Linked DNA regions of Homo sapiens. The main gene of each other region encodes a partner of the protein of the gene in region 2 in a complex. Each region holds a gene or a part of one and is shown on either strand. Other genes may lie near its edges.

Region 1 (4,740 bases), on a different chromosome or scaffold from region 2:
TGAGAGCTAAGCATTTCTACTGGGCAGTTTCATTTTTAGTTGATCAGGTTTTAAGTTTTTGAACTAAAATTTTTCTTTTTCTTTTTATGATGAATAAGGTTAAAATAAAAGCCTTAGACAAATTAAATTTGGCAGAGTTTAATTGAGCAAAGGACAATTCACAAATCAGGTAGCCCCTGAACCATAATAGGCTCAGAGGCTTCAGCCCAGCTGCATAGTTGAAGATTTATGGACAGAAGGAAAGTGATGTATGGAAAATGGAAGTGAGATACAGCAACAGCCGGATTAGTTACAGTTCAGCGTTTGCCTTATTTGAATATGGTTTGAACAGTTCGCTGTCTTTGGTTGGCTGAAACTTAGTGATTGCCACAAGAGTAGGGTACCGTCTGTTTACACGTCCAGTTAGGCTACAGTTCTATGTACTGAGAAACCTTTAAGCTGAACTTGAGATATGTAAAGAGACTTTAGGCTAAACTTAACAATATATATAGGATATATACCCTTCTACTTCACATGCACTGAATATGCATTTTATTGCTTTACTCTTCATTCTGTGGCACCTACCCACAGGGGAAGTAAGAAGTTTGTTTTGGTATTTCGGAAACTAAAGTCCTTATGGGATGGGGTCTAGAATTGATTCTCCTTTCCTGAGTTTTACTCCACGGAGTCTTAGGTACCTGGTAAAAAGTTGTCTTCTAAATTAAGGGTCATTGCTTTGTTGTCTAGCTGCTAATGTCTTACTTTTGTTTCTTTTGCTTTTTAATCAGTTCTTAATAGGATATAGTTTTATGTTTTCCAAGTTATAACTTGGAGTTAATGGTCACTAGATTATCAGTTATGAGCAGTGTTAAAATCTCCTATTAATGTGTAATGTACCTGTCAGTGCCTCCTTTATTAAGGGGTTCTTTGAGAATAAAAGAGAAAAGACCTACTTTATTTGACAGCAAAACTGTTCTAATTGTTAATAAGGACTTTTAAAAATTGTTTTTGATTTGCTAAGCTCAGAAAAAATGTCTCTCAGTGCATCAGTTCTTTGTAAAGCTTACTACGAAGTATTTATATGCTAAGGAAAACAACTGAGGATGTGGGTGGCTTAAATCTGTATTTTCATCATGTATGTGAGTTTTTTTTTTTTTAAGTAAAGAAATTTTCTGCAAAGATCGTTACCTTAAAAAAGTTTAGCCTGGGTGTGGTGGCTCACGCCTGTAATCCCAGCACTTTGGGAGGCCGAGGCAGGTGGATCACGAGGTCAGGAGTTGAAGACCAGCTTGGCCAAGAGGGTGAAACCCCATTTCTACTAAAAATACAAAAGTTAGCCAGGTGCAGTGACAGGCGCCTGTAATCCCAGCTACTCATGAGGCCGAGGCAGGAGAATTGCTTGAACCCAGGAGGCGGAGGTTGCAGTGAGCCGAGATTGTGCCACTGCACTCCAGCCTGGGCGATGGAGTGAGACTACGTCTCAAAAAAAAATCGAGAGAGAGATATATATATGTATTTATATATATATGTATTTATACTAATATATAAATATATACTAATAGATATATTAGTATACATGTAGAATGTACCTGTCATATATATTAGATATATAAATGTATATATTGGTATAAATAAATACTAGATATATATTTTTTTAAGTATCTTACCTCATCAAGTAAATTCAAATGCTTTTTGATTTTTCCACAGTTGATAATTTTTTTTTGTAAGTCATTGAAGTTATATAGTAATTAGCGTTTTTTCCCCCACAAATTATTGGCAGTGGTCACCCAGTTGTATTACAGGTTCTATGATCCAAAAAGGGATGTATGAAATTCATGATGATTAAGACAATTTTTTCTTTCTTTCTTTTGAGACAGAGTCTTGCTGTGTCACCCAGGCTGGAGTGCAGTGGTGCGATCTTGGCTCACTGCAACCTCTGCGTCCCGGGTTCAAGAGATTATTGTGCCTCAGCCTCCAGAGTAGCTGGGATTATAAGCGTGCGCCACCACACCCAGCTAATTTTTTTGTATTTTTAGTAGAGACGGGGTTTCACCATGTTGGCCAGACTTAAGACAATTCTTTAATAGTAAATATATTAAAGGTGAGTTGGCTTGACAAGATACAACCAATATGTAATTTTTCTCCACACGTTTTTTTTTTTTTTTTTTTTTTTTTTCTGGAGACAGTCTTGCTCTGTTGCCCAGGCTGGAGTACAGTGGCGCGATCTTGGCTCACTGCAAGCTCTGCCTCCCGGGTTCAGGCCATTCTCCTGCCTCAGCCTCCCGAGTAGCTGGGACTACAGGTGCCTGCCACCACACCCAGCTAATTTTTTGTCTTTTTAGTAGAGACGGGGTTTCACTGTGTTAGGATGGTCTCGTTCTCCTGACCTCATGATCTGCACGAGGCCTCCCAATGTGCTGGGATTACAGGCGTGAGCCACCGTGCGTCCCCGGCCTATACCTTTCATTAATTAATAAGCTGGGGGAATAAATAACTGGATTTCATTCTTTTCCATCTTCTGACCTGTTGGTGCTCCTATTGCTTGTATCCAAGTAGAAGGCAAAAGGCAAGAGACCCCTGTAATGCAGCAAGTGGAGAGATTTGTTGAAGGGGTCAAACAAAACCCTGCAAGAGTAGGAAATAAACAGTTGGCTCCTGTCCTCGTGGAGCTTATAGACAGAAGCAGATAACAAATAAAAATTGGAGCTTAGTGCCGTGGTGCACACTTGTAGTCCCTGCTACTGGGGAGGCTAAGGCAAGAGGATCGCTATAGCCTGGGAATTTGAAGCTGTAGCGTGCTATGATTGCAAGCAGCCTGGGTAACCTAGTGAGACCTGGCTCTTAAATTTAAAATTTAAATGAAAATGGCCACTTAGCATAAGAGATCTAAAATTACGTTTTGTCCTGGCATGGTGGCTCATGCCTGTGACCTCAGCACTTTGGGAGGCCGAGATGGGCGAATCACTTGAGGTCAGGAGTTCGAGACCAGCCTGGGTAACATGGTGAAACCCTGTCTACTGAAAATACAAAAATTAGCTTGGTGTGGTGGCGGGTGCCTGTAATCTCAGTTACTCAGGAGGCTTAGGCAGGAGAATCACTTGAACCCTGGAGGCAGAGGTTGCAGTGAGCTGAGATCACACCACTGCACTTCAGCCTGAGTGACAGAGCGAGACTGTTTCAAAAAAAAAAAAAAAATTTGTTTTGAGAGTTTTTGTGTCTAGGATGTTTGCAGTGTGAAGCCAGTCTAGTAACAGTTTAAATGTAATAATAAATCACAGTGGGTACTAGATTGAGTTTATTCCACTAGAGGTCATTATTTCATTTCCATGTGAAAGGGCTAAAATTGGGTGAAGAAAAAGCTATTTGAACTGATTACCATCATTTGCTATAAAGGAAGCATTATAGTATGAATAGAAAACAGACTAGAGTTTAACATGCTTCTCTTGACCCCTCTTCACCACCCCCTAAAAGGCAGATGGGATCTTAGGACTGCAGCATTTTGTACACATCTGATATTTAATGAGATGTTACATATGAACTTTAGTTTTTTTTCTTTTCTTTTCTTTTCTTTTCTTTTCTTTTTTTTTTTTTGAGACAGAGTCTAGCTCTGTCACCCAGGCTGGAGTGCAGTGGTGCAATCTCGGCTCACTGCAAACTCTGCCTCCCGGGTTCACGCCATTCTCCTGCCTCAGCCTCCTGAGTAGCTGAGACTACAGGTGCCCACCACTATGCCCGGCTAATGTTTTGTACTTTTAGTAGAGACGGGGTTTCACTGTGTTAGCCAGGATGGTCTGAATCTCCTGACCTCGTGATTCGCCCGCCTCGGCCTCCCAAAGTGCTGGGATTACAGGCGTGAGCCACCGCGTCCGGCCGAACATTAGTTTTTAAAGAAATGTATTATGAATATAGATAGAAAACCCAAAGTGAAGGAATAGAAAATGAAATATCAGTTTCTTTTAATCTATCATAATTATGTGAGCATAACTTAGTATTTTGAAATAGATTAATGTAGTCAGCAAACAATTCATGTATTACCTATAATAGATATCATACATATAACATTTAATAACATACAGTTCTTGTTCCTGAAGACTTAACCTAGAAAATAACTCCATAACAAGAAGAATCTCTGTCATAATAAACCAACAGCAGACATTTTCTAAAGGCATTAAAAGTATATCTGATACTGGCCTTTATTAATGTGAAATTCTTGTGGATCTGTGAAATAAAGAGGAGTACTTTCTTTTCGTTTTTTTTTCTTTTCTTTTTTTTTGAGACAGTCTCACTCCTTCATCAAGGCTGGAGTACAGTGGTGCGATCTTGGCTCACTGCAACCTCTGTGTCCCGGGTTCAAGCAATTCTCGTGCCTCAGCCTCCCGAGTAGCTGGGATTACAGGCATGCACCACCACACCCAGCTAATCTTTGTATTTTTAGTAGAGACAGGGTTTCACCATTTTGGCCAGGCTGGTCTCTAATGCCAGACCTCAAGCGATCTGCCTGCCTCAGGCTTCCAAAGTGCTGAGATTACAGGTGTGAGCCACTGCGCCCAGCCAATAGGAGTACTTTTGAAAAGGAAGATAAATTTTTTTTTTTTGAGACGTAGTCTTGCTCTGTCACCCAGGCTGGAGTGTAGTGGTGCAATCTCAGTCCACTGCAAGCTCCACCTCCCGGGTTCATGCCATTCTCCTGCCTCAGCCTCCCGAGTAGCTGGGACTACAGGCACCCACCACCACGCCTGGCTAATTTTTTGTAGTTTTAGT
Region 2 (7,033 bases):
ACCACATCTGGCTGAGATAAAATTATTTCTCTCTGGTCATTCTTAATATTCAGAGACATATCTGGAAACACATTCACCAAACAGTGAATTTGGCTATTTCTGAGTGGTAAAATTGTGACTTGCTTTCATCTTTGTACTTGTCAATTCTGACTGAATATTTTATGATGAGCATGTCAGTTTCTTTAAAAAACAAAAACCATTATTTGTTTTTCTACACATACACATGGTATATGACAAATATTATGTCAATAAAATATTTTTTAAGTAAATAAAGAGACACATGGTGGAGTTAGAGAAGGAAAACAAACAAATTACCTTCCAGTTCAAAAGCAGAAATGGCCAAGAATGAACGAAAGGACAATGCTCACCTCAGGGATGGGCGAGTTCAGCCCAGGGATTTTCAGGTTGGGATACGATGGGGGTGGTCCATATCGCTGCATGGCAATCAGCCATGGGGGAGGGACCTTGTGGGCATTCTGCAGGAAAAAGAGAACAGGATACCATCTGCCAAACCCTATCCCTGTCTCTGCCTTCCACTCCAATCCCCACCAGCCTCTTCGCTGCTTCCCCAGACAGCTAACTGACACTCACTGGTCCTACTGGCATCCCCAAGGAAATCCTTAGCTCATCAGACAGATCTCCTGGCTTCTTCTCCTTCAGTCGTGTCTCGAACTCCTTCCCCTGAGGGAAAAGCAGAGCATGCTACATTGTAGACCCAGACACTCAGTGGGAGCACAATCCTAACGCACATCAGATATAAAATCCCAGTGAGGGCTACCTGGCTCCCACTCTGATTCTCATCACTTCTTTCCCTGGCCAAAGTCGGGGAAGGAATAAAAACCAGGCCAGACTCACAGTGCTGTCAATAACCCACTATGAGAACACGGCCAACGTTAGGACCTGCCTCCTCATCTGTAAAATGAGGGCACTCGACAGGAAGATATGCAAAATTCTTCCACCTCATAAATTCCATGACATCATGGTGACTACGATTTCAAGGATCAGAAAAAACCAGCAATTTCTCTACCACTCCCAATATTAAAAGTTTCCTAAAAGCATCTGCCCCTTGGCCCCTCCATCCCTAAACCACCTACCACAAACTATTATCATTTCTAAGACAGGATACGAAGAGTCTATCAGGGAAAGAAGCCACCAGATCTGCATCTCTCCTCCAAATAGAGCCTCATTTTTAAATTCCATCTCATCCGAGGGTAGTCGATGGGCAATTCTAAGGCTGAGGAACTATCGTAGTTGCTTCAAAAGCCCTCCTTGGCCAGGTGCGGTGGTTCATGCCTATAAACCCAGCACTTTGGGAGGCTGAGGCGGGTGGATCACTTGAGCTCAGGAGTTCCACACTAGCCTGGGCAACATAGCGAAACCCTGTCTCTACCAAAGATACAAAAAATTAGCCAGGTGTGGTGTGCCTGTGGTCCCAGCTACTCAGGAGGCTGAGATGGGAGGACTGCTTGAGCCCCCAAGGCAGAGGTTACAGTGAGCCGAGATCCCACCACTGCACTCCAGCCTGGATAACAGGGTGAGACTCCATCTTTTTTAAACAAACAAACAAACAAAAAAAAGCCCTAGACAGTCTCAACCCCAAGGCCCAGCCTGACCTCTCCCAGCCCCCTCCCGAACCTCATAGTACAGGTCCCCATGGATGGTCAGCTTTGGCTTGGTCTGCCACTTGAAGAAGGCATCATGCAGTTTCTGGTAGTCGATGTCAATTTTGCCCATCTTAGGCCGAACTTTCTCTCGCATTTTTGACTTCATGGTCTTCTGTTCTTCCTGTGGAGAATGGCAGCAAACAAGCCTTAACAAGTACTCACCAAATTCATGTAGAGAATCCAGCTCCCAACTCCAAATGAGATCATGGGAAGCCTCAATTATCTCACCCTGAAAGTCATCAAAATCCTTCCTGCTAAAACCTTTCAAAATTACATAATCCATACTGAACAAAACAGACTATACAATATCAGCCTCAGCCGTGTATATCAATAACTAGTTTTTAAACCATCTCATCAAGAGATGAATCTCAACAGTTCTCTGGAAAGCAGAGACTTCCCCATGTTCTTTTCTACCTCCTGAATTCAAAGCATTTAACTAAAAGCTTTAAAATTAAGAAGTTACACAACCACCACGAATCTCTAGCCACAAAGTACATCTGAGAAAGGAGTCACCAGGTGAGCTGGCAAAGTGAAGGCAGAGGGGAGGAAGAGCAGAGGAGGAAAACAAAAGGATAATTAGACAAGTAACAAGTAGGTGGTAGGTGGGTTTCAAACCAGATTCCCATTTTGAAGCACACTGCTATGAAGGATGGGGACACCCGGGGGCAGGTCTGAGCCCTGCCAGGCCCTCACCTTCTCCTGCAGGGCCTCTCGCATCTCCTGGATGCCTGTGCGTTTGATGAAGTCTGGCAGCTCGAAGGGGGGCTTCTCAATGCCCCGTTTGCCCTGCAGGTATTTGCGCTTAAAACACCAGTGGCGTGGCACAGGCACAGAGTTCCGAGTGGCCTTGAGGTGAACCAAGAGCTTAGGGTCCTGCGCTGTCACATCGTGCATCTCCACGACATCGGGCCGAGCCACCAGCTGGAAAACACATAGTAATGCGTGTTCTCGAGAGCCCCGACTTCTCAGTTCTGAAGCTCTTCTTCCTCAAAGGACCCAAACCCAAATCACCCACACCTCCTTCAAAGAACTCCTTTTCACCTCCCTGGCTCCCCAGGTGGTCTCCCAGCTGGGCTCCAGGGCCTGCAGGATCCTCTCAGGTCTTACCTGCTTGAGTTCAGCCACAGTGAAGCGGTTCATTCGGCGCAACTTCTTCTTGGACAGCTTGGGGGCTTCTGGCTTCTTTTCCTAGAACAGAACAATCAGCCCTTTTAAGCAGGACTCAGATGTGAATGAAACTGCCCAACCCACCCCAACCTTAAGCCACCAAAGCTCTGTAAGAGTTCACCATGGTCCCTCTCTGGATGCATCTCAGCCACCTGTGCCCAGAGTCCCTGCTTCCCACCAGGAGGGCTGGGCCTGACCTGCTCGTCATCACTGCTGTCATCATCACTGTCCTTGTGCTCCTCTTCAAATCCCTTCTTCTTGGGGGCTGCAGAGTTCTCCAGTTTGTCAAGTTTCTCTGGCTCCTTCTCTTTCTCCTTCTTCACATCATCAGTGAGCTAAGGAGGCAGACAAGGTGAAACCCCTGCCCTCTGAGCCCCTTCCCAGTTCCTAAGGCCAGCACTAAAAGATGCCTGTTCACCGCTGCCTCTCACCCACCTCTGAGCCCCTTCCCTGTTTGGCACTGCCCCTTCCTAGTGTGCTCTCCTTGTACCTTAAAAGCCTCAAAGATCCTCTTAAAGAAGATAAAGTTGGGCTCGTAAATTTCAGGTTCTTCAGTCACATACTCAATCTCAACATCAGCTGCTGGGGAATCAGAGCCACGGGACCGGGTTGAGTCTTTCTCCCGGTCCCCAGAGCTCTCAGAGGACACCCCTCGCACCCGCTGGGGCTTTTTCTTCTTCTTTCGGTTCCTACGCTTCCGGTTTTTCTGTCAAGAGGAGGAAAACCAGCTGGGTCAGGGAATCCAAGCACTGTGCCAGCACCCCAACCCCTAAACTCCTCCCCCATTCTCCCCCACAGTTCAACAGTCAGGCTTTTCCCAAGGAGGCCATCTCATGAAGTAGCTGCGAAGGGGCCTTGGAGTCAGACTCCAAAGTTCTGCCACTCACAAGCTGTATGCCTTTGGGTAAATTACTGTGCGTCTCAGAACCTCTGCTTTTTCAGCTGTAAAATGTAGGCACGTATAGTACTTGGAACTCAAAGCAATTAAATGAAAAATATCTATAAGATGCTGAGGGCGGAAATTGGCACAAAATAGAAGCTATTACTTACTGAACACTTACAAATTGTGTTATTTCCGTACCCAAGTCCCATCTCCTGGCTTTCCTTCCACACTCAGCTCCAATCCCTACCTCCTTTTTAGATACGGACACTGTGTCCTCCTCAGTCTCTGACGCTGACTGGCCCAGGGACGAGCGAGCATCTGTTTCCATTTCCTCTTCCTCTGTAAGGAAGAAGGTGGTGATGAGTCTTCACGGTGCCACTGCCCTGCACTCGTTCACAGTAACCTGCCTTTACCAAGAGCCAGGGAAAGGGACAGAGGGATGAGGACTCAGCTCAGCCTCTCCAGGTTCTGTGGCTACAGCATCAGAACGCCTGGCACTCACCCTGCTGAGAATTCATCTCTTCCTGGCGGCTCTCCTTCAGCTGCAGGATCTTCTCCAAAGCCTGGGGGATCTTGGGGCCCACAGAGGGGTCATCCATCTGCCAGAGACACCCAGTCAGAGAAGGCAAATCACAGTGCCCTTTTTCTTTTTTTTTTCTTTCTTTCTTTTTTTTTTTTTTGAGACGGAGTTTTGCTCTTGTTGCCCAGGCTGGAGTGCAATGGCGCGATCTCGGCCCACCACAACCTCCGCCTCCCAGGTTCAAGCAATTCTCCTGCCTCAGCCTCCCGAGTAGCTGGGATTACAGGCATGCACCACCACACCTGGCCAATTTTGTATTTTTAGTAGAGATGGGGTTTCTCCATGTTGAGGCTGGTCTAGAACTCCTGACCTCAGGTGATCCGCCCGCCTCGGCCTCCCAAAGTGCTGGGATTACAGGTGTGAGCCACCGCACCCAGCCCACAGTGCCCTTTTTCCACCAACTTCCACCTCTTGGACTAGAAAGGCTGCTGCCCAGGTGATGTAAGCAGCAGAGAGTGGGCAACACCAACTGGGCTCAGTGGGGTTTAGTGTTCCTCAGAGGGACCCCAAGACTCTGCCTCAGTAATGTCTCCCCAGTCCCTCTGCCATACCCTTAGTTTAAATAAGAAGGGCTCCCCACTACCCCCAGGAATTTAAGTCCCCCCATCTTCTCACAGAACCTTTCTCTAAAAATCCAAAAATAGTCCCATCCTAAACTACCACTCTCTTATCCCTAGGAATAAATCATCAGTCTCACCTCTCTGTTCTCATCTCCAGGGGGCGGTGGGGGACCACGAGGCCGGGGAACAGGGGCTCCCATGGGCAAAACTGTAGGAGTGGGGCCCACTGGGCCCACTGGAGCAGCTACTAAGAGACGGGAAAAAGAAATCCAATGTCAGAAGAGGCAAAACACTCACGTAAAAAATTACCTCTCTTGCTGAAAGGGTGATGGTAAACCTGCAGGGGAGGAGGGCACGTGGCGTGGCTTTTGGAATGCTGGTAATGTTTTGGATCATGGTCCAGGTGCTGGTTGTACAGGTGTGTTCAGTGTGTAAAAAACCATTAAACTATATATTTACTATATATGCCCTTTTTAAATGTGATAGATACCTTAAAAGTCTTTTTAAAAATGTCTAAATCACCTTCCTTGCCCTTCCCCTCGGTTCCAGGGTCTCACCTCGAGGACCCAGAGGAGTGCGCACACCAATCTGGCCCATGTCTTGTGGGGGCCGAGGGACTGGGGTGCCCATCTTGGCAATCTCCTGCTGTCGTTCCTGCTCCAGTAACACAGCTGCCTACGGGAGGGAAGTGGGAGTAGATACTGCCTGAAAACGCATTTGGCAGGCAGCCCCTGGCAAATGCATTCTTTCAGCCGGGTAATGGGCCCAAGGAGAACAATCACGAACCACTTGGGTGCTGACATCCCCTCCACCCCCACACTTCCAGGCTACTAATCCAAACGGAGGAGCCCTCTCATCACAACGGAAAATCCCTAGAAATAACACCAAGGAAAACCCCAGGAAACTTCTGGTTCCTAGCAGAGAATTTCATATTGAGCCAAACAGTGCCTTCTACTTTTCAGAGAGTTTTCTTCCCCAAAAGATTAAATTATACAGAAGAAACTTTTGAGCTCTTTTCTTATATCCACCCCTCAAGATCCAGCACAATCTGGGCAAAGACAGTACTTTACCCACAGGTCCAGACTTGTGGCTTTTTTTTTTTTTTTTTTTTTTGAGACAGAGTCTGGCTCTGTTGCCTAGGCTGGAGTACAGTGGCATGATCTCAGCTCACTGCAACCTCGGCCTCCCCAGCTCAAGCCATCCTCCCACCTCAGCCTCCCAAGTAGCTGGGACTACAGGCATGCGCCGCCACACCTGGCTAATTTTTGTATTTCTGAGAGACAGGGTTTCATTATGTTGGCCAGGCTGGTCTCGAACTCCTGAGCTCAAGCGATCCACCCACCTCAGCCTCCCAAAGTGCTAGGATTACAGGTGTGAGCCACGGCACCCAGCTCATACTTGTTGCTTTTTAACACTTACTTTTTAATACTCCTGAGTAACCCACTGGGTAATGACTGATGCAATGCACCTCTGGGGCCAAACATCTTATATAACATTCCCAGACTTACAGTCCTATTCTGTCTAAATCCAATACAAATAACTCAATTACCCAGAGTCCTATCTAGAATGATGTCATGTAAGGCGAGCAGAGGTCAGCAGGCTCTTTTTATAATAGGTCAGAAGGTAAATATTTTAGGCTTTATGGGTTGCTGTACAGACTCTGGTACATATTTTTGGTTTGGGTTTTCTTATAACCCTTAAAAAATTTTAAAGTTATTTTTAGCTCATAGGCCATACACATGCAGGCCACAGGTCATAGTTTGTCAATTCCTGAACTTCAAGAAAAATTGAAAGCTTTGGAAGATACTAGAACTTAGTTGAGAACAAAGTAGCCTCCAGGGAAAACTTGAATGGTGCACTCTAAGCACTATAAATGACAGCCAACTGACTGGACCACGAGGTCAAAGGTTAGGGGGAGGGGTATTACCCGCTTCTGCTGCTCCAAGAGCTCATGTTCCTTCAGCGAATGATCTCCCTGCTTAAAAAAGAAAACAAGTTCATACCAGCACCAATACCCAACACGCCAATCTGCCACAACTCTTGCTTCTTGAGATCCTCTTCCAGTCAAGGGCCCATGTTCCAATCTTTAGTCCCGACCTTCCCAGAAGCCTTAGTTCTAGGACCCAGCTTTCTCTAAGGCTCCACTGCCCCTTCAGGGACCTAATGAGTCCAAGGCCAG

The links. Proteins that work in one complex are often made in the same cells at the same time.
Region 1: SF3B2 (region 2) and SNRPD1 share a complex: the UniProt entries of both Homo sapiens proteins name them as parts of the minor spliceosome.

What each region holds. Positions count from the first base shown.
Region 1 is NC_000018.10:21,629,299-21,634,038, forward strand, and holds the end of SNRPD1 (small nuclear ribonucleoprotein Sm D1), read left to right. Parts: 3' UTR 1-4,222; downstream 4,223-4,740. UniProt on the Homo sapiens protein: Plays a role in pre-mRNA splicing as a core component of the spliceosomal U1, U2, U4 and U5 small nuclear ribonucleoproteins (snRNPs), the building blocks of the spliceosome.
Region 2 is NC_000011.10:66,055,334-66,062,366, reverse strand, and holds part of SF3B2 (splicing factor 3B subunit 2), read right to left. Parts: intron 6,833-7,033; coding exon 6,782-6,832; intron 5,530-6,781; coding exon 5,412-5,529; intron 5,102-5,411; coding exon 4,992-5,101; intron 4,314-4,991; coding exon 4,217-4,313; intron 4,054-4,216; coding exon 3,962-4,053; intron 3,538-3,961; coding exon 3,322-3,537; intron 3,167-3,321; coding exon 3,029-3,166; intron 2,853-3,028; coding exon 2,772-2,852; intron 2,586-2,771; coding exon 2,358-2,585; intron 1,786-2,357; coding exon 1,636-1,785; intron 682-1,635; coding exon 592-681; intron 477-591; coding exon 369-476; intron 1-368. UniProt on the Homo sapiens protein: Component of the 17S U2 SnRNP complex of the spliceosome, a large ribonucleoprotein complex that removes introns from transcribed pre-mRNAs.